3 separate regions of the Homo sapiens genome follow, and regions 2 and 3 are each reported to be linked to region 1. The links are microRNA targets in miRTarBase. Many come from high-throughput screens and were not tested one by one. Region 1 holds a microRNA gene; each other region holds the end of a gene's coding sequence.

Region 1 (6,312 bases):
TTTTACCATGCAAGGTAACATAGCTGCAGGTTCTGGGAATTAGCATGTGGGCATCTTGGAGTCATTATTCTGCCACACCTTCCAAGGAAGTCTCCTAAGCCGCTTAAAGGGTAACAATTCCATTTTTAAACAATCATCCAAAAGCCTCACATTTACTAATCACATACATGTTCAGTTCCAAGAACTTTCCTAGATCTTGAATTTATTGCCTCATTTGTCTTTACAACAACGCTGTGATCAAGATAATGATATCAGTTTTATTGATGAAGAGTCTGAAACCCTACCAACAGAATCCCCCAGGGAGTAAGTATCAGGCCCAAAACTCTGAGTCCCAAGAAAATAAATATCAATAGAAAAGCACTCTAGTGGTTGATGGTCATGGTGGCCCAAAAGTTCCTCCTAATATCTAGCCTGGATTGTTCTGGGCTTTTTATTGCCTGCATATTCATTAGATTCAGTCTTCAGGCTGCAGAGGGCTGAAGTGGTCACATAGGCTGACTTTTTGTGGAGGAAAAAAGCAAAATAATAAAAATAAGGCCTACCTTTCTCTATGTCTGAAACGTGAATTGAGTACCTTCTAAGTAAAGGGAAAAATATCAGATCCATGGCCTCAAAGCACAATCCCTGTTCTCATGGAGTTCAATTAATTGGGAAGACAAGTTGAAAATCTTAGAGCAGTGGTCTTTAAATATCAGTATATATTGGAATAATCTGAGGAAACATGTTAGAAATGCAAATTCCTTGATCCTGAAACCAGAGATTCTGATGTAGTAGATTTGGGATGGAGTCTGAGTTTTTAGCAAGCTCTGCCGCCAACCCCTAGTAATTCTGATACAGTTGATCCATGGTCATAGTGCGAGGAATCCTGCCATAGAATAGGTACAAGAGTGGCAGCTGTAGCCATTATAGGTGGACACCATGTGCACACATCTGCCAGATGCCTCATTCACTTGGGTTATTCCCTTTAGTTTGCAAGGAATGCCAGGACCAGCCAGGGTGGGGTCCCATGGGCCTGTGCTTGAATCCAGTGCTTGAACCTGGGCATAGGGTGTAGGGATAGGTCTTACCAGACACAAACAATTCTAAGTTAGGTTTTCTGCAACACTCTCATTCTGAAATATCTCTTTATTGGCCATTTGTCTTAACTGATAAATATATAGGACCAGTTTGTTATTTTGTCTGATTTTGTAGCTATAGCAGTATCGATCTTATTTTCCTAATTGTCACCTTCTTTTAAGAATCCTTGCTGCGGTAGGGGGCGGAAATCCTTGCTAAGCTTCTATAGCTGGGGGATTCTCCAATTAGGTCTAGGATTTTGTGGTCTCATATCAGTTTTTTGCTTCTGAGGTCTTTCATGGTACAGAGATGGGGAGAGTATTTGTGGGGGGTTGTGCCACATGAGCGAAGTCAGGGAGATGAGAAAATGCATGGATATATTCAGGAAATAATGAGTAGCCAGTTGGGTAAACATATCTATCCATCTAAGGTAGGGTGGAACACCTTGAGAATGGTCATGGGAATTTATTAGAAACCATCAACAAGTTGGTCTGGGGATCGAGAAGCTGAGTGAATGTGGCCTGTGGATTTCAGAGCAGTTGGCAGCAGTGCCAGAGTTCCGCGGTCTTGGGCCCCTCTTCAAGTCCTCGCCTGAGCCCGTGGCCCTCACCGAGTCAGAGACGGAGTATGTCATCCGCTGCACCAAACACACCTTCACCAACCACATGGTTTTTCAGGTGAGCAAGGTGGGCTGAGGCCCTGCTGGGGCATGCGCCCAGGGAGTTGTCCCAGGTCTGGCAGGTCCTGTAGGGTCATGGGTCCCCACACTGCATTGGTTGGGAGCCCAACTTGATGACAGAATCTGTCCCCAACAGGTCGGTCTCTCATATCTCTTGACTCGGGACATCCATGGCTCCCGATTGTCAGCATGAAGACAGGGAACCTGGGGCAGGGGGACTGGGATGGGAATCACCTTGGTCAATAGGAAAGAGGTGGGACCTCCTGGCTTTTCCTCTGCAGCATGGCTCGGACCTAGTGCAATGTTTAAGCTCCCCTCTCTTTCCTGTTCAGTTTGACTGCACAAACACACTCAATGACCAGACCTTGGAGAATGTCACAGTGCAGATGGAGCCCACTGAGGCCTATGAGGTGCTCTGTTACGTGCCTGCCCGGAGCCTGCCCTACAACCAGCCCGGGACCTGCTACACACTGGTGGCACTGCCCAAAGAAGACCCCACAGCTGGTGAGCCCCTCTCCAGATACCACCCTATCCTCCTGGGAGCTCATGGGGTCAGGAGGAGGTGGGCGGCTGGGCACCAGCTGTTTGCCTTCTATTAGAGCTTCAGCTCCTTGATTTCAGTCCCAAGAAGAAGAATAGCTGAGTCCCAAGTGCTCTTCTTTAAAAATTTTTTTTTTTAAAGAGACAGGATCTCACTAGAACTCATGACTTTCCTGTCCTACAAGGTGGCACCCTCTGTCCAGCTTTGTGGGATTGGATGGCTTGTTGCTGCTACTAATAACATAGCAGGGGCCTAGAAAGCAGGCTGTGACCCCTGCCTGCTTGTCCCCTGCAGGAGGAGCCCATCCCCTGCAGGCTGGGGACATCCTAACTACCCAGCCTCTCTTCCCCACAGTGGCCTGCACATTCAGCTGCATGATGAAGTTCACTGTCAAGGACTGTGATCCCACCACTGGGGAGACTGATGACGAAGGCTATGAGGATGAGTATGTGGTAAGATCCTGGTGTCAGGAAGCTCAGTTTTGTGCTGAGGCTGCAAAGCAACTCCCTTCAGGAACTGACAGTGAGACTGGAGCTGTTTTTGGCTTTTTAGCTCTTTAAAATTTTATTTTTTTATTTTTATTTTTTGAGATGAAGTTTCTCTTTTGTTACCCAGGCTGGAGTGCAGTGGCGCGATCTCGGCTCACTGCAACCTCTGTCTCCCTGGTCCAAGCGATTCTCTTGCCTCAGCCTCCCAAGTAGCTGGGATTACAGGCGCCCACCACCATGCCTGCCAAATTTTTTGTATTTTTGGTAGAGATAGGGTTTCACCATGTTGGCTAGGCTGGTCGCGATCTCCTCACCTCAGGTGATCCACCTACCTTGGCCTCCCAAAGTGTTGGGATTACAGGCGTGAGCCACCGCGCCCGGCCTAAAATAACTTTTTAAACTTATGGAAATACATGTTCATGTGTAAAAAGAAAACTTGGGAAATACAAAAACAAAATTCAAAACAAAGTATGAACAACAGGAAAACATTACTCATAATCCTTAGAGTTATTTTTGGGGGGAAGTGGTATAATTGAAATCATTCTTACAGTGTAGACCTTGCTATTTTAAAACCATAGTGTATTTTCCAGTATCATTACAAATACTTCATAAACACAATTTTTTTAGTGGATTTAAAATACTGTTATATACTATGTCAAAACTTGATTGACTTTTCACTCCTTTAATGTTGGGCATTTGGGTTTCCATATTTTCACTATTTATATTGCTGCATTAAATATCCCTTTAGATACAAATTTTTATCTGCATTTTAGATTATTTCTTTAGGATAGATTCCTAGAAGGAGAATAGTTGGGTCAAAGGGTAAGCATGATTTTAAGACATTTTGATTCCTCTTGTCAAATGCTTTCTGGATAAATTTGACCTGTTTGCTGTGCTGGGCAGTCCTTTCATGCACTGGAATAGCCCTTCTAAATTCTCCTATCTTAGCTCGGTGGAACTAAGTACAGGATCCTTCTGAGGTCTGACTTTGGGGCAGTGGCTCAGGGCCATCTGAGTGCAGACCATTATGCTCAGCCTGTGGATGGGGACTGTTAGAACTCCTCCTGACTAGAGGGACAGTCACAGTGGAATACAACTGACATTCGCCATTGTGTCATCCTAGAGTCACAGTTGAGGATGGATGGACCTTCCTTGAGCTGGAAATGACCCCGAGGCAGGAGCTGCTCTAAGACCAAGTGAGCTCCTTGAGAGAGCTGGGTCTGTTTGAGCCCATCCAGAGATGAAGAAAAAAAAAAAAGAGAGAGAGAGCTGGGTCTAAGTTGTATTTATATACACTGTAAACATCCACAGGAGTAGGGCCTCAGTGAAAATCTGATGGGAGAATGAATGGGGAACCTTCATGTAGACTCAGTGGGAGTATTATGTGTCAAGTTCAGGGAAGACACAGCTGAAATGGAGATAGAGATTCAGGATCTGTCAAATCCAGAGGACACAGCTGGGGTAGGAGGTTTCTGCTAGTTTCTGCTGAACTAGAAACAGCTGCTGGTCCTGAAGAGCTCATCATCCCCTAGGAGGGACAGGCATAGGAAGCAGACCTCTGAGAATGCTATGTAATTCCCTGCATGCCAGGTCCTGGAAGCACTGACACTAGGCAGGCTTAGAAGAGATGTGATCTCACAGCAGGCGGCTCTAGGCTGAATTAGTAGATTGGTACTTGGGATTAGGGCGTTTTCTGTTGAAGGGATACCATTTGCCTTTGGGCACCTCAAGGATAGGTACCTGGTCAAGTTGCTCTATGTCCCCAGAGTCTAGCACAGTCCTCAGTGCCGAGCAAGCACCTGTGGAAAGAGTTGCAGGAAGGGATGTGTGGATGAGTTCAGAGCAGAGGCCCGTAGGTGTGTAGATGGGTGCCTGATTTCTACCTCCATCTCTCCAGCTGGAAGATCTGGAAGTTACTGTAGCTGATCACATTCAAAAGGTCATGAAACTGAACTTCGAAGCAGCCTGGGATGAGGTAGGGGATGAATTTGAGAAGGAGGAAACGTTCACCTTGTCTACCATCAAGACACTTGAAGGTAAAATCCTGGGAATGCCATCTCTGGCCTAATTACTGTTCAAGATCTTTGGCTACTATTGAAGTGCTCATCCCTTTTCTCTCCAAGGATCCAGGGCCATGTCTGGAGCACATATGTCAAATGCCACTTCATTAAAAGCCCTTCAGAACATGGGGGAGTGGTGGTGGCACAAAGGGCAGATAAGATGGCTTAACAATATTGGGATTTCTCATTACAGAGGCTGTGGGTAATATTGTGAAGTTCTTGGGAATGCACCCTTGTGAGAGGTCAGACAAAGTGCCGGATAACAAGAACACCCACACGTTGCTCCTGGCTGGTAAGTGGCATTTCTAGATGGGGAGGGCCTGGATAGCTTACAGCCTGGATGCCACTGGATCCTGGGCTAAGGACTCCACTGTAAATATGGGGAGTCAAAATTCACAGCATTTAAAATTCACAAAGTATAAAATAATCTGCAGCGAAATGTTTCCTCCCTACCTTGGCTGCCAGCCATTCAGATTCCCTTCCGAGAAGCGACCAGTGTTACTATTACAAACAATACTTGTATAACCTTGCGGTTATTTTATGGCTATAAAAGCTAATAGGAACGCATTTCCTTTTTTTAACTCAAATGTTTATGTACAAATGGTATATATATTGTCCTCCGATTTGCTTTTCACTTTACATTGCATCTTAGAGATCTTCCCCGTCAATATGTAGAGCTTCCTCATTCTTTTTCTTTTAATTGTGGTAAAATATACATAAAATTCACCATTTCGACCATTTTCAAGTGTATGGTTCAGCGGCATTAAGTACATTCACACTATTGTAAAACTATGACCACCATCCATCTCCAGAACTTTTTTCATCCCAAACTGAATCCTCATTTTTTTTATAGTTGCTTAGTATTCCATTGTGTGGATGCACCACATATTCTATGGAACAGCCACTACTGATGAACATTTAGTTTGATTTCAATCTCTTGCTATTACAGATGTTACAGTAAATAATCGTGTACACACACACACACACACACACACACAGTTTACTTTGCATGTGTACACTGAGAATATCTGTAGGATAAATTTTCCAAGGCATCACCAGTTCAAAGTGATTTGTGTTTCTCATCTTGATAAATAACTCCAAGTTGCCTTCCATAGAATTGTATACCTTTCTTCCTACACTGTGGACAACATAATATGTTACCACACTTTATGATCTTTTCCAGTCTGTGTGGACAATGATATCTTAGTGTAGTTTTTGTATTTTCAATGAAGTTAAGTATCTTCTTAAATGTTGAGGCATTTGTATTTCCTTTTCTGATCATTGTCTTCATATCCTTTGTCTTATTTTCTACAGGGTTGGCTGAGTGTACCCACACTCATTCTCCTTCCCAGATTATTTACTAGCAAACTCCAGAAATAGCATTTTATATGTAAATCCTGTATCTGTATGTTTCTCTAAGAGAGAATGACCCCTTCCCTTTTTTAAAGGACAATACAATTATCATACCTAAAACAGTTAACAAAAGGA
Region 2 (6,312 bases), not on the chromosome of region 1:
TAGATTTGGTCTCTGTACTGTAGTTCACTGACCCCTGATCTAAAAGATTACATACTTTGAAAACAGCAATGCCAAACCTTGAATCCAGGTCCGATATTTTCCAGCAATCGTGATGCTTCTCTGATCAACTGAATGAAACAGTTATAAATGTACTGGCTAAATTTAGCTTTATGCACTTGTTTTGTCCCCTATTACAGTATAAACTTTTGGTGAATAGGGATTTTCAAATTAATTAAAGCGCTTATTTTTATACCCAATACACACAAATACAGAACTTTACTATAGCAGATTTTTGACCCCAATTTAGTGTGCTATCTGAATAAAAGGCTTAGTAACTAAAAAAAGTGCTGTCTTAGATTTCTGAACTATTTTTTTTTTTTTTTTTTTTTTTTGGAGACAGAGTCTTGCTCTGTCACCCACACCAGAATGCAGTGGCACCATCATGGCTCCCTGCAGCTTTGACCTCCTGGGTTCAAACGATTTTCTCATCTCAGCCTCCCCAGTAGCTGGGACTACAGATGCGCACCACCACACCTGGCTAATGTTAATTTTCTGTGGAGACAGGGTCTTGTCATGTTGCCCAGACTGGTCTTGAACTCCGGAGCTCAAGCGATCCTCTTGCCTCGGCCTTCCAACATGCTGGGATTACAGGCGTGAGCCAGCATGCCTGGCTGAAACTATTTTTACAGAGAACTTAGGTGGTGATATGGTTTGGCTCTGTCCCCACCCAAATCTCATCTTGAATTATAGCTCCCATAATCCCCACCTGTCACGGGAGGGACCTGATGGGAGGTAATTGAATCATGGGGGTGGGTTTTCCCATGCTGTTCTTGTCCATAGTGAGTATGTCTCGGAAGAGCTAATGGTTTTATAAAAGGGAGTTCCCCTGTGCAAGCTCTCTTGCCTGCTGCCATATAAGATGTGCCTTTTCTCCTCCTTTGCTGTCCACCATGATTGTGAGGCCTCCCCAGGCATGTGAGACTGAGTCCATTCAACTTCTTTTTCTTTATAAATTACCCAGTCTCAGGCATGTCCTTCTAGCAGTGTGAGAATGGACTAATACAGATGGCCTTATCCTGTTTTTCCACAGAGCTATCTGAGGTACTATATAATCATCAAAAAGAATAAGGCAATTCTATAGGTATTAATGTAGGATTAGAGCTAAAATACTATGCTGAGAAAAAAGTAAGCTACAACAGTTTGTTTCCATCTATTAAAAATGAGGATGGGGATATATATGTATGTATGAGTAAATGATTGGACAGCTTAAATTATTTTTGAGAGAATATTCAATAAAACAGTAAAAATAGCTGTTTCTGGGAAAGGAAAATGGGTAATTAGGGCTACAGCTGGAAAAAAGTAACATTTTACTTCTAGTTGTTTTTTTTTTTTTTTTTTTTTTTTTTTTTTTTTTTTTTTACAAATCACCTATATGTATTAGCTTTCAAAAGATTTAAAAATTAAAAATACTAGATTGTCAGCGTCTGAAGTGATAAAATACTTTATGCTGGTGCCTCCTCAGTAACAGACATTCAAAACTACAGTCAGCCCTCAGTGTTCATGTGGTCTGAATCCAACCACAGATAGAAAATATTTGAAAAAACTTTTTTTGGTGGGGCACAGTGGCTCACACCTGTCATCCTAGCACTTTGGGAGGCTGAGGTGGAGGACTGCTTGAGCCCAGGAGGTTGAGGCTGCAATGAGCTGTGACTGTGCCTCTGCACTGTAGCCTGGTGACAGAGTGAGACCCTGTCTCAAATAAACAATGTTTAAAACACAGACACACACGGTATAACAGCTATTTATGCAGCATTTATGTTGTGCTAGGTATCTGTAACCTGGAGATGATTTAAAGGGTAAGGAAAGATGTGTGCAGGTTCTATGCAAATATTATACCACTGTATAGCAGGGACTTGAGCATCTGTGAATTTTGTATCCTCAGGGGTGGGGGGAGGGGGTCCTGGAACCAATCTCCCTTGGATACCAAGGGACGACTGCACTTCACTGACCTTGTTGAAAGCAACTGACATCACACACACCAATGAGTGCATGTAAAAGCAGTAAAATTGGAATAGGTTCTGTGGCTAGGGGAAGCTCAACGGTACTTTGTCAGCTGTGATGCTGCTCTACAGTGATGGGGGATGCTACCACTGGGGAAACTGAAGGGCACGCAGGCCTCCCTGTACGTTCTGTTGCAACTTTCTCTGAGTCTGTAATTATTTCTAAATAAAAGGCTAAAACAAAACCACAACTATGCCATGTAAAGGCTCACATGTAAATCTATGTTCTAACTATGGTGCTGCTCTAACCCCCCCAATCTGAGTCATGCCTTTCCTTGCCTATTTCCCCATCTATAATTGAGGGCGGGCGACAGCCTTCCAGAGTAAATTAAGTCACAGAGGGAATCCTGAGAGGTGAGCAGTAGAAAGAAGACTTCTGTCAAATTCTTTCTGAGCCTAAAATAAAAACAAAGACAACACACATCCAAGTCTTTGCCGGCTTTCCTTGGGTGCCTGGCGGGGCCACAGGCTTCAGGCAGCACCTGGCTTCAGGTTCCATCCCAATCCCTGCAGAATGGGAAGAAGCCATCCGTGAGCATGAGCAGAGGGTGGGAGTCAGTGGTCTGCAAGAGAAGTGGCGCTTGCTCATGCTAGACGCCTGGCCTGGTGGTTTGGGTACATTGGCAACCAAACTGCCTACCTGTGTGTTCTGGTCCACAGGGAGGTGCAGGCAGGTTCTAGGATCCAGGGTTGCAAGATCAGGCACACTTTGGGGCTGACATAGGGGACTGTCTGACATAAACACATTTCAAGTCCTCAGCTGTGTGTGACTTCATTTACCAGTCCCTTCTTTTGCTTTCTTGAAGTCACACTCAGTGTCTACAAGAGCAGTGGAGACAGCTGCAGATCTGTGTTTAGACCTGATGAGCAAGTCCATGAAACAAACACAAAGCCCAGACACTGAAACCATAGCATTAACACCAAAAAGCCGGCCGGGTGCGGTAGCTCACACCTGTAATCCCAGCACTTTGGGAGGCTGAGGCAGGTGGATCGAGACCAGCCTGGCCAACATGGTGAAACCCCATCTCTACTAAAAATACAAAACCTAGCCAGGCGTGGTGATGCATGCCTGTACTCCCAACTCCTTGGGAGGCTGAGGCAGGAGAATCGCTAGAACCCAGGAGGCAGAGGCTGCAGTGAGCCGAGATCACGCCACTGTACTCCAGCCTGGGTAACAGAGTGAGACTCTGTCTCTAAAGAAAAAAAAAAAAAACCACCAAAAAGCCAAAACAAAAATAAGCCTCCCCTCCATGGTTTTTAGAGCCTCCTCTGATAAAGGAAACACACAGCGTGTTAGCTAGTATCTTTTATTGTCAGAACTTCTGTGAGCCAACAAACAGTTTTGCATGGTTGTACACAAAGGGACAAGGCAAATTTCTTTTTTCGTGTGGGTAGACTTAGTTGGCCCAAGTCCTTAAAACTTTTCCATATAAAAATAAAAAGTCCAAGACCAGATTATTTTTCTTCTGGTCATAAATGCTGATTTATTTACAGGTGCCTTGTTCAGACCACCATTATAAACTTGGGATAAAATATGTGTGTATTAAAGCCTCAGCATTTAATGTCAGGGTCCTTTGAAGATTCACTCAAGTGTTAAGACGTTTCTGGAATGCAGCGTCTCTCCCCCATAGTCAACATGGTTATTATATCTGTAATCTATCCAGAATGATAGAAGCTAACCTTCCAAGTAACACTTTGTTTTTAACTTAAATCTTTTAGACATGAAAGACTCCAAAATGACTTCATTCTTGTTCTAAAACCAGCACTGGAGCCAGCTGTTGAAGAGTGGTTTATAAATACAGTTATCTTGTAGGCTGCTTATCTGTTTATAATACAGCAGACACAGATGGCAGACTTTGCTACATGTAAAACAATGGAGTCAACACGTGTTTTTCAAAATACAGCAAAGACAGGAAAATCCAGGATTTGGGTTTGTTAATAAAACCACCTTATAAAGTAACAATTGAGACTATAGCTCTGCATTATTAAAATATACAGACTGTGTACACCATTACACATCCTTTTTCCCTTTGCTTTTTAATGCTCATGAAACCATGATTAAAGTGTTGAGTTTATGAACACATGCACGAACAGGCAAGCACGTACACTTAAAAGATGAAACAAAGAAAAAAGTTGATTCATGTCATTCCATGAGAAAGGCTGCCCGCAGCACTCCAGCTCAAACACACTGTCCCCTCGAGCTCTCCATCCCCCTTCCCACTCCCTCACCTTCCCTCAGATTCGGGGAAATCAGGTTGGGAGGTTAGTGCATCATTGACAGAGAATGCCCCCCTTCCACGCTCTGTTAAGTCTCCCCCAGAAGGGGGAAAGGCAGTTCCCTTCAGTAGCACAGTTACGGTCGATTAGTGTTGGTTCCACAAGTTAAGGCACTTCCGGCTGCTTTGGTGGCAGCGTGGTTCCTCCCCTCCTTTTTTAAGGCATGTGTCCTCTAAGAGTAGTAAAGCTTTGGAAACTGTGCAGACTGTTAAAGTTGACAGCTTAATACAGGATCAATGAAGGCGGCAGGCAAAAGGATCCTCGGAGACACCTCCCTCAGACCAGAAGCTTCCAGAAAGCCTGGGCAGCTCTGTGTTTGTTTTGGCTGGGCATGGCACACTGGAGCCAGCCTAGGCCAGAGGGTGGTGCGTTCAGGTAGCAAAGACAGGTGGGCTCTGTCCCGCCTTCACCTGGAGCTGCCCTGGCTGCTGGCGGAGCGTGTCGTGCTGTAGCGCTTCTTCACGATCATGCTGATGTAGGCTTTCATGAGCTTGGCCACATCCACCACCTGCCCAGGGGGAAGCAGAACCGACACAGCGTCACAAGTCTCCCCCAGGCAAAGGGCCCTGCCTAATAATCCAGACATTCCCTGGGCACCCTCCCGTAGCCTTCCATGCTAATCGACGGATCCCATTTTGCAGGAAGCCAGAAGTTTAACCACTTTCACCTTCCTCATCAGGGAAAGGTGGAATCTCAGCTTTTCCAAATACAATGTGCACCACCTGGTGGCACAAACGTGCCAACTTGGCTTGATGGAAACTGTCAGACTTTGCACATTAAAATCCAGAACTAACCGAGGACGCTGAAGTTACTCGGTGTCAACAGTGCTGGGATTACTATCCCCGCTTAAAATAAATGTGAAATGACAGAGTCCACAATTACAGCCTTTAAAGACTGGATCATCTAATTCTAGTCAACTCCTTAGGAAGCAGCTGAAGAAACAAGATAACTGAGGCCCCAGGGGCTGGGAGAGCGGCCAGCTCCCCAGACGCCAGGCCAGCTTCTGCTCCACACCAGCCACCTCCTCCAGCTGGGATCTCCATTAGCTCCCTCCCATGATGTCCCCGTCATTGCCACCCCTTCTCACAGCTGGCCTGGATCCCTGTGCAGGCATCATAACCGGCTTCCATATCCCTGTTTGCTCTCTTCCCTTCCAGTCCCACCCCAGAGATCACTGTCTGTAAATTCACTGTTATGCCATGCACAATCAAAGATCCCACAGTGGTTCCTTGTTGTCTACTGGATCTCACCAAATCCTGCAGCCTGGCACCTGGGACCCTTGAGTCAAGGGCTCTCCACCCTCTTCCCTCTCACTGCACGACTCCCCATCAGCCTAGGGAACCTACAATGCCACATCCTCCAAGCAGCTGGAACGCCCTCCTCAATGCCTCTCCATTCCAAACCAGGCAGCAGGTGATTCCTCTCCACTCACCACGTTGACTTGCTAGCTGTTCCCTTTGTGGAAGCCTCAATAAGCTTCTTGTATTATATTTTTTAAACTTGGAGGCTGGTAGCACATATATTTAGAGGCCTTTTAGTGTGTGTGGTTTCACAATCCAGAATGAGCTGCACCCAGGATGGTCATGCTCCCGGCTCCCTCCTGGTCTCAAGAGGCCACCAGAGCCGAGTCTCACAGCTGTGACACCGCTATAATTGCTAACTAATTTTCATAAGGTTTTGTTGCAAATAATATACTTTTTCAGGGACATCTATGTCACTTCCCTTTCTCTGCCTTTCCTCCAAGGGTAAGACTCCTTGGCAAAATGGAACCAGATTCCTCTGTTGCAAAAGTATACAAAAAAAATATGGTGATCTCAGATTTTGGCCTGCAGGGAACCGGCAGCTGGAAAGGGACCACCACACTGTATTTTCGTGTTTTGAAGAAAAATATTCAAAGAAAATGACCTGGTCAAAGGCATGAGGAAATGGGGTCCTGTTTTTCTGTTTTGTCAAGACCATGAATAAAAAGATGAAC
Region 3 (6,312 bases), not on the chromosome of region 1:
TAGCGTTTTTAACCCAAAGATATTTTAGAATGAAGTACAGAGATTAGGTAAATCAAATTTAAACTATTAACAATTTTGTATTAAGTTCAAAAATAGTTTTTGTAATAATTGGGACAATCTATATATATTTGGTATTTAAAATATTTGTGGCTGGGCATGCCTGTAAGTCCAGCACTTTGGGAGGCTGAGGTGGGCAGATCACCTAAGGTCAGGAGTTCAAGACCAGCCTGGCCAACATGGCAAAATCTCCTCTCTACTAAAAATACAAAAATTAGCCCTACTAAAATACAAAAATTAGACGGGCGTGGTGGCGAGCACCTGTAATCCCAGCTACTGAGGAGGCTGAGGAGGGAGAACCGCTTGAACCCAGGAGGCAGAGGTTTCAGTGAGCTGAGATCGCACCACTGCACTCCAGCCTGGGCAACAGAGTGAGACTCCATCTCCAAAAATAATAAATAAATAAATAAAATGTTTGCGAGCTTTAAAAATGTACTTTATTAAGATACCTAACAGGTTAGCCTCTAACACCAATTTAAATGGGTAGTTGAGTAATTAATTGTAGGTTCCTGATGTTGAGTCAAAAGGTATAAACTACATTGGGATGCTTAATAGAACTTATGAATCACCATCTTTAGAAGTTTAGTGTATTAGCTTTACTTGGAATGGTTTAAGTATATTGGAAGGTTTTTCCCATTAAAGAAATTTGAAGTGCCTTAAAAAGAAAATGGGATATATTAAGCTCATAAAAGCAATGTACAATAGTTAAAGGAAGTTTATTAACTAGGTTGAAACTAGAATTGGTTAATTAAGGGAGGTTGGTCCATTCAATGTGAGTTGAAGACATCAATCAAAGGCTCCCTTGAAAGTGACTGTCAAAATTTCTAGATTTACAAGTAGACTAGGATTTGTAATGTATTCATTCAGAATATTTACTGGGTGTCTGCTAGGTGTTAGGCACTATTCTGGGTGCTAGGAATATAGCAATGAGCAAAACAAGGGCAAAAACATATCATAATGGGGCCTGGACACATTAAACTTAAAAGCTTTAGAGAAAATTTAAAAACTAAGTTATTAAATTCTTTGCTTTAATATGTTAGATATTAACAATAAAACAAACTGCCATAAATAGCCTCTTTATTGCACAGAATTTCTCCTAAGGGACACCAAAAACTCACATTGACAAGTGTCTCTATTCATTCTTTTATCACTAGTGCCTCATTCACGTTTAACTCTCAAAATTGTGTGTAGCTTGAGTGTTGAATCTTCTCCTCTATGTTCTGGAGTTTTTCACATCATTCCCAAAAAATCTGAGTTAACCAAGATTTTCTTCTTAAAATACAAATCTCTCTAAGGTTAAAGGCTAGGAGATATTTACATTTTCATGCAATTCAATCAGATTGTGTTTTTCCTAACACCTGAGTTAAGGAATAAACTAATAGAGGAAAGAAAGAAAAATAACTTTAGACATGAAAATATTTGTTCAGAAAAGGGAAATCTCTGGATTGGGAACATATTAAAGTACAAGTCTGGTAGTCCTCAGGGCATTCGTGAGCTTGGGCAAATTGGGTGCCAGGTATAAAAAGAGTGGTGCAAAAATGCAAAGAATTCTCAACGATTTCAAAAGCAGCTTCCACCCAGAAAAGACAGTCTCTTTTCCACTTTCCCAGGTGATTACATCCTCTCAAAACTCAGAAGTCAAAATTGCTTTGTTAAAAAGCTCCATTTGGGTAAATAAAGTTTCTGCAAAATGACCTGGAAACTCAAACAATCACCGTGTCCACGGGAAAGTGTTTCTTAGTTCTAAGGGTCCACTTGCAACCAGTTTTTTGAAACATGACCTATTTGTAAATTGACTATTGTGTTGATAACCAAAACTCATAAAAATCACACCCAGGGCAGTCCCAGCAAAGAGTAGAGAGCCAAAGCCCAGTAATGGCTTAAACTGTAAGTTTACTGGGCCAAGCCCAAAGCTAAGAATTCAAGGAGTTTTGCAACCCATACCCATTTTTCAGCTGCCCTTATGCCAGCAGTTACAATTCACACACTCCAAAACTTCAGGCAATGCTGCTGGCCTCTGTACCATTTCCTCCTCCGCCAGCTGACCAACCCTAAGGATTGTAGCTAACTGCACATTCCCCACGTCAATATTTAGGGACCAATCAGAGAGCAGGTAGATGATCTGGGGACAGAATTGTACAGTGGTTAACTCCTCAGGCTCTAGAGTCTGAATGAACTAATTTTAAATCCTAACTACAATTCCCTGGCTGGATGCCCACAGGCAGGTTACTTAAATTCTCTGCACCTTGGTTTCCTCATTTGTAAAATGGGGATTATAATAATATCTACCTCTGAGGGTTTTAAATGAGATTCTACATGTGTAGAATAACATCATGCCTGATAGAGTGAGTGCTCACATTCACACATGAGTTCCCCAATTCACAGCAAGCACAGAAAAACATTTGTATCTTCTGCTTCCAGTATGCCACAAAGGTAATGAGTAATTACACTGACATCTTGGTTGACTTAGGTAACCACTTTCTTACCTCAACATTACTGCTTTGTTTTTTTCAACATTAAAGCAACTAAGAAATAATCCAATTTCTATTTGGATTCCTGAAGTGCTGGGATGAGGGACAGGCTTATAAACACTGGTCTAATAGGTGACAAGGATTTGGCTTTATTCTAGTAATAAAAATGTCATGAAAAAGGAGTTATTGAAGAGTTATGAAGAAAAAGTGTAATGCTCTAAATGATAGATTTTTAAAATCATCAGTTTGTTTTCAGGCATTGAGTCCCAAACTGGAACAAACTACCTCTGACAATAATTCTGTGAGAAAAGGATTTTTCTAAATCGATCCATATAAACCAGGCTGAGTTATTAAGGAGAAAAATGCGTTTAATAATATAGCATTCGATTGCATATCATCCAGGAAAGGTGTACTGTAAAAAATGTTTTGATTATTCATTGACCTCTGGTAACTTTAGCGTTGTAAATACTTGTATTATATGAGGTAGACAGTTTAAAAAAAACTCTCCATTAGACAGACTTAAAATTTTGTAATAATATTTAAGAAAATGGTAACATTATGAAAAAATGAAATATCTGATTAATGCTTAACTTTGTACAACTCGAATATAAACTTTAAAAATATTAGAAATTATAACATTTGAGTGCATATAACGTTTTGTACATTAGGATGAATTGCATGCTGTCCATTTCCTCTTTGCACTTTCAGTCACCTTAAATAAACAAATATATACAGCCTTAACAGAACAACAGTGCATCCAAAGCAAATGTGCATTTTAAATTATTTCTCCTGGCCAAGTCTTTTTTTCACTTAGCATTTTTATATTAGCATTTCTTATCATCCCCACCCTTTCTTTGACAGTTTGTAGTTCTCTGAACCAAACAAGCAACAGGTTTAGATTGGAAGAGAGCAAAATCACTTAGGAAAAACTAAAACTTTTTAAAAGGCTGGTACAAATTCCATTGATTAAACAATTTTATAGTCAAAGATGAGGAGGAAGCTAACTCTTCAAAGGGCCTACTCATGGGCAATGTTTGAAAACAATACTGGTGCAGGCTGGGGGAAAGTTCATGTTTTTGACTATCTGGGAATGGGTATTTCAATTTCACTGTGCTCTCTCCAGCTTCCTCCCAGAAGACGAATTCCACCCCTGTCTCCTTCCTCACTGCCTGTTCCCCATCTCCCACCCCAAGCTCAATGTAACACTTGGCTCTTTTCACAGTTTCTCATTACTAAGTTTTAAAAACATTGCCTAACTGATAATTACAATCTGAACCAATTCTTTTGGGGGAGCCCTGGGCTATTGCTGGCTGGTAATCTTTCAGGAATGTCAAAGAGAGGGGAGGGAACTCAGATTTTAAAGAAACTTCAGAGACAGGGACTTGTGTCCCCTTTCATCCCTCCCTTCCCCACTCCTGGCTCCTGGCCTGTCCCTTGATCCCCATCCTCCCTGAGGCCCACCATCTTCCCTCCTGATGGGACTCCTTCTACTTCTTGGTTCCTTTTCCCTCCTTTGTAGCTCTTACGTTAATTGTTTTGTTCCCCACTCCTGCCCATTTTTTTGAACTGGAAAATCACCTTCCCCTTAGAAGTGCATGTCTGAATTTTGGCAAATTCTGTTGAAAGAAATCAATTAGAATCAGAAAGGGCATTTGGGTGGGCTACCTCCAGCCTGGGCTAATGCACCTCCGTGTCAGCCCCAGTCAGAGGCAGGCCTTGTGGTTTCTCATTATCCTTCAAGGGGTTCCATTTGGACTAATTCTTGTCATTCCATCCATACCAGCTCCCCTTGCCCCCACCAGAAAAAGCAACAATGAAGGCAGAGACCTGGGCCCTCAGGAGTGAGATGAAGGTTGCCAGTTCCTGGTACCGAAAGAGGCCAGGGCAGAGCTGGTAAACTCACAGAGTACACAAATGGGTGAGAGGGGCACCCGTGGGCCCACCTCTCTCAAAGCTCTTCTATAGGCAGGACCATTCCTGACTTAACTATTCTTTTTGCCAATTTCCCTATCTAACACTTTCTGTGTGGGAGGGCACAAGACATGGGCTATGACATGGCCAGAGACCCCACCTTCTTTACACATGTAAAAACCAACCAAATCAAGATGCGTCAACGGTGATTCTTCCTCCCACATTGTTTCCCTTTTTAAACTGTTATTTTTTCAATCCATGGAGCAGTTGAGAAACGGGTATGCATCTCTCCTCCCCTCCCCTTCTATCAAAGCCTGTAAGACACATAAGGAAATCCAAAGCCACAGTAATAGAGAGAGAGAGAGAGAGAGAGAGAGAGAGAGAGAGAGAGAGAGAGAAAACAGAACAAAAGAAATCCTCCTTGGCTTGTTTTTCCAGGGTGGCCAGGCAAGGTGTGAAAATCCATATTTCCCTCTGGGCTGGCAGGTAGAAGTTACTGGGAAGGCTGCGCTCCCTTCTCTCCCACCGGCTCTCACATCCAGGCTGTTCCCTCACCCTCAGCCTCCCCCAGCGCCAGCTTCCTCCTCCGCCTCTCTGCAGCCAGGCCTCCCCTGCAAGGCGGACCTTGGCCCACCTTGGTTCCGGGCCAAGGCGGCGGGAAAGGCACCGCTACCTGCAGCCGCACGACTCCACCACCATGTCCTCGTACTGCTTGTAGACCACATTATTGCCCGCGTCGATGTATAGAATGCTGATGGGAGTCAATTTGGTGGGCACGCAGCAGCTGGGCGGGGTGGAGCCGGGGTCCATGGAGTTCATCAGCGTCTGGATGATGGCGTGGTTGGTGGGCTCCAGGTGCGAGCGCAGCGGGAAGTCGCATACACCCTCGCAGTGATAGGCCTCGTACTCCAGGGGCGCGATAATCCAGTCGTCCCAGCCCAGCTCCTTGAAGTTCACGTGCAGGGGCTTCTTGCTGCAGCGTAGCCTGGACTTCTTGCCGTGCCGCTTGCCATGGCGACTGGCGAAGGCCGTGCGCCGCCGCCGGCGGCCGGGCGAGGGCAGCCAAGGCCTGGCATCCGGGGCGCCCGACGGCGGCGGCCACGACCCCTCGGCGCCCGCGCCCGGGCCCGCAGCCTCGGCCGAGCCCAGCTGCTCGCGCATCTCTGCGAACAGGTTCTTGCGCTGGGATCTGGTGAATACCACCAGCAGGGCCCGCTCCTGGGGAGGCCGCACCCTCCGGCCGAAGCCCAGACTCCGCAGGTCCGGGGGCGGCGGTTGCTGGGGTCCCCGCGCGCGCGCCTCGGCCTCCCCGGCGTCCAGCTCGCCCCATGCGGCCCGCAGCTCCAAGCACAGCTGCTTCCAGGGCTGGTGGCGCAGGCCCTGCCACACGTCGAAGACTTCCCAGCCGGCCGGCGGCGCCCCCTGCGGGTCCAGGGTCCGCGCGTCCAGCAGTAGGGGCGAAAGGCAAGGGAAGAGCTGCACGTGGAGCGGCCCGGCTGGTGGCCCCCAGGGCGCTGAGGGCGCCTGGCGAAAGAGCCGCAGCTCCGCGCCCACCAGCTCTTCTTTGTCTGAGAGCATGGACACATCAAACAAATACTTCTGTCTCCGGAGAGGAGTGTGCGAGAGATCGTCTGCGAGATAAAAAATAATTACAGTCAGTTTCACTTAAGGGGGAGATCAGCCCGGTGCTCTTCGGCCGCCCCGGGAGGAAAAGGGCGGGGAGTGGGGGCAGGTCGGCCGGGCAGTCCAGCTTGCCCGGCCCAGGGCCTGACCACCCCGGCTCCCCATCTGGCTGGTGCATGGCGCGGGGAAGGGGGCGCGCCAGGACGGGCCCCCTCCTTCGCGTCAGCTCCGGACTCTCAGGGCGGAAGTC

Evidence for each region. Region 1 holds the annotated microRNA hsa-miR-6826-3p (CUCCCCUCUCUUUCCUGUUCAG, at 2,046-2,067, shown strand). A microRNA usually pairs through its seed, bases 2 to 8, with sites in the 3' UTR of a target mRNA and lowers its output. Matches are read on the target gene's strand: a 7mer-m8 pairs with bases 2 to 8, a 7mer-A1 pairs with bases 2 to 7 and ends in A, and an 8mer does both.
Region 2: miRTarBase lists MYO10 as a target of hsa-miR-6826-3p. Seed matches in the 3' UTR shown: 7mer-m8 at 4,482-4,488, 7mer-m8 at 4,252-4,258, 7mer-m8 at 3,303-3,309 and 7mer-A1 at 882-888.
Region 3: the mRNA of GDF6 is a reported target of hsa-miR-6826-3p. Seed matches in the 3' UTR shown: 7mer-m8 at 4,732-4,738 and 7mer-A1 at 4,108-4,114.

Annotation. Positions count from the first base shown.
Region 1 is chr3:129,270,177-129,276,488 of GRCh38, forward strand. It overlaps MIR6826 (microRNA 6826), which reads left to right and starts at 1,970; the gene lies at 1,970-2,067. It overlaps COPG1 (coat protein complex I subunit gamma 1), which reads left to right. Exons shown (of 24, transcript NM_016128.4): 19 at 1,591-1,733; 20 at 2,068-2,239; 21 at 2,631-2,728; 22 at 4,662-4,800; 23 at 5,018-5,116.
Region 2 is chr5:16,661,949-16,668,260 of GRCh38, forward strand. It overlaps MYO10 (myosin X), which reads right to left. Exons shown (of 41, transcript NM_012334.3): 41 at 1-4,845. The coding sequence ends at 4,744. Among named protein-coding and RNA genes, the nearest start is that of RETREG1, 48 kb to the left of the region's middle.
Region 3 is chr8:96,139,455-96,145,766 of GRCh38, forward strand. It overlaps GDF6 (growth differentiation factor 6), which reads right to left. Exons shown (of 2, transcript NM_001001557.4): 2 at 2,879-6,070. The coding sequence ends at 5,109. Among named protein-coding and RNA genes, the nearest start is that of GDF6, 18 kb to the right of the region's middle. RefSeq lists a silencer at 6,172-6,231.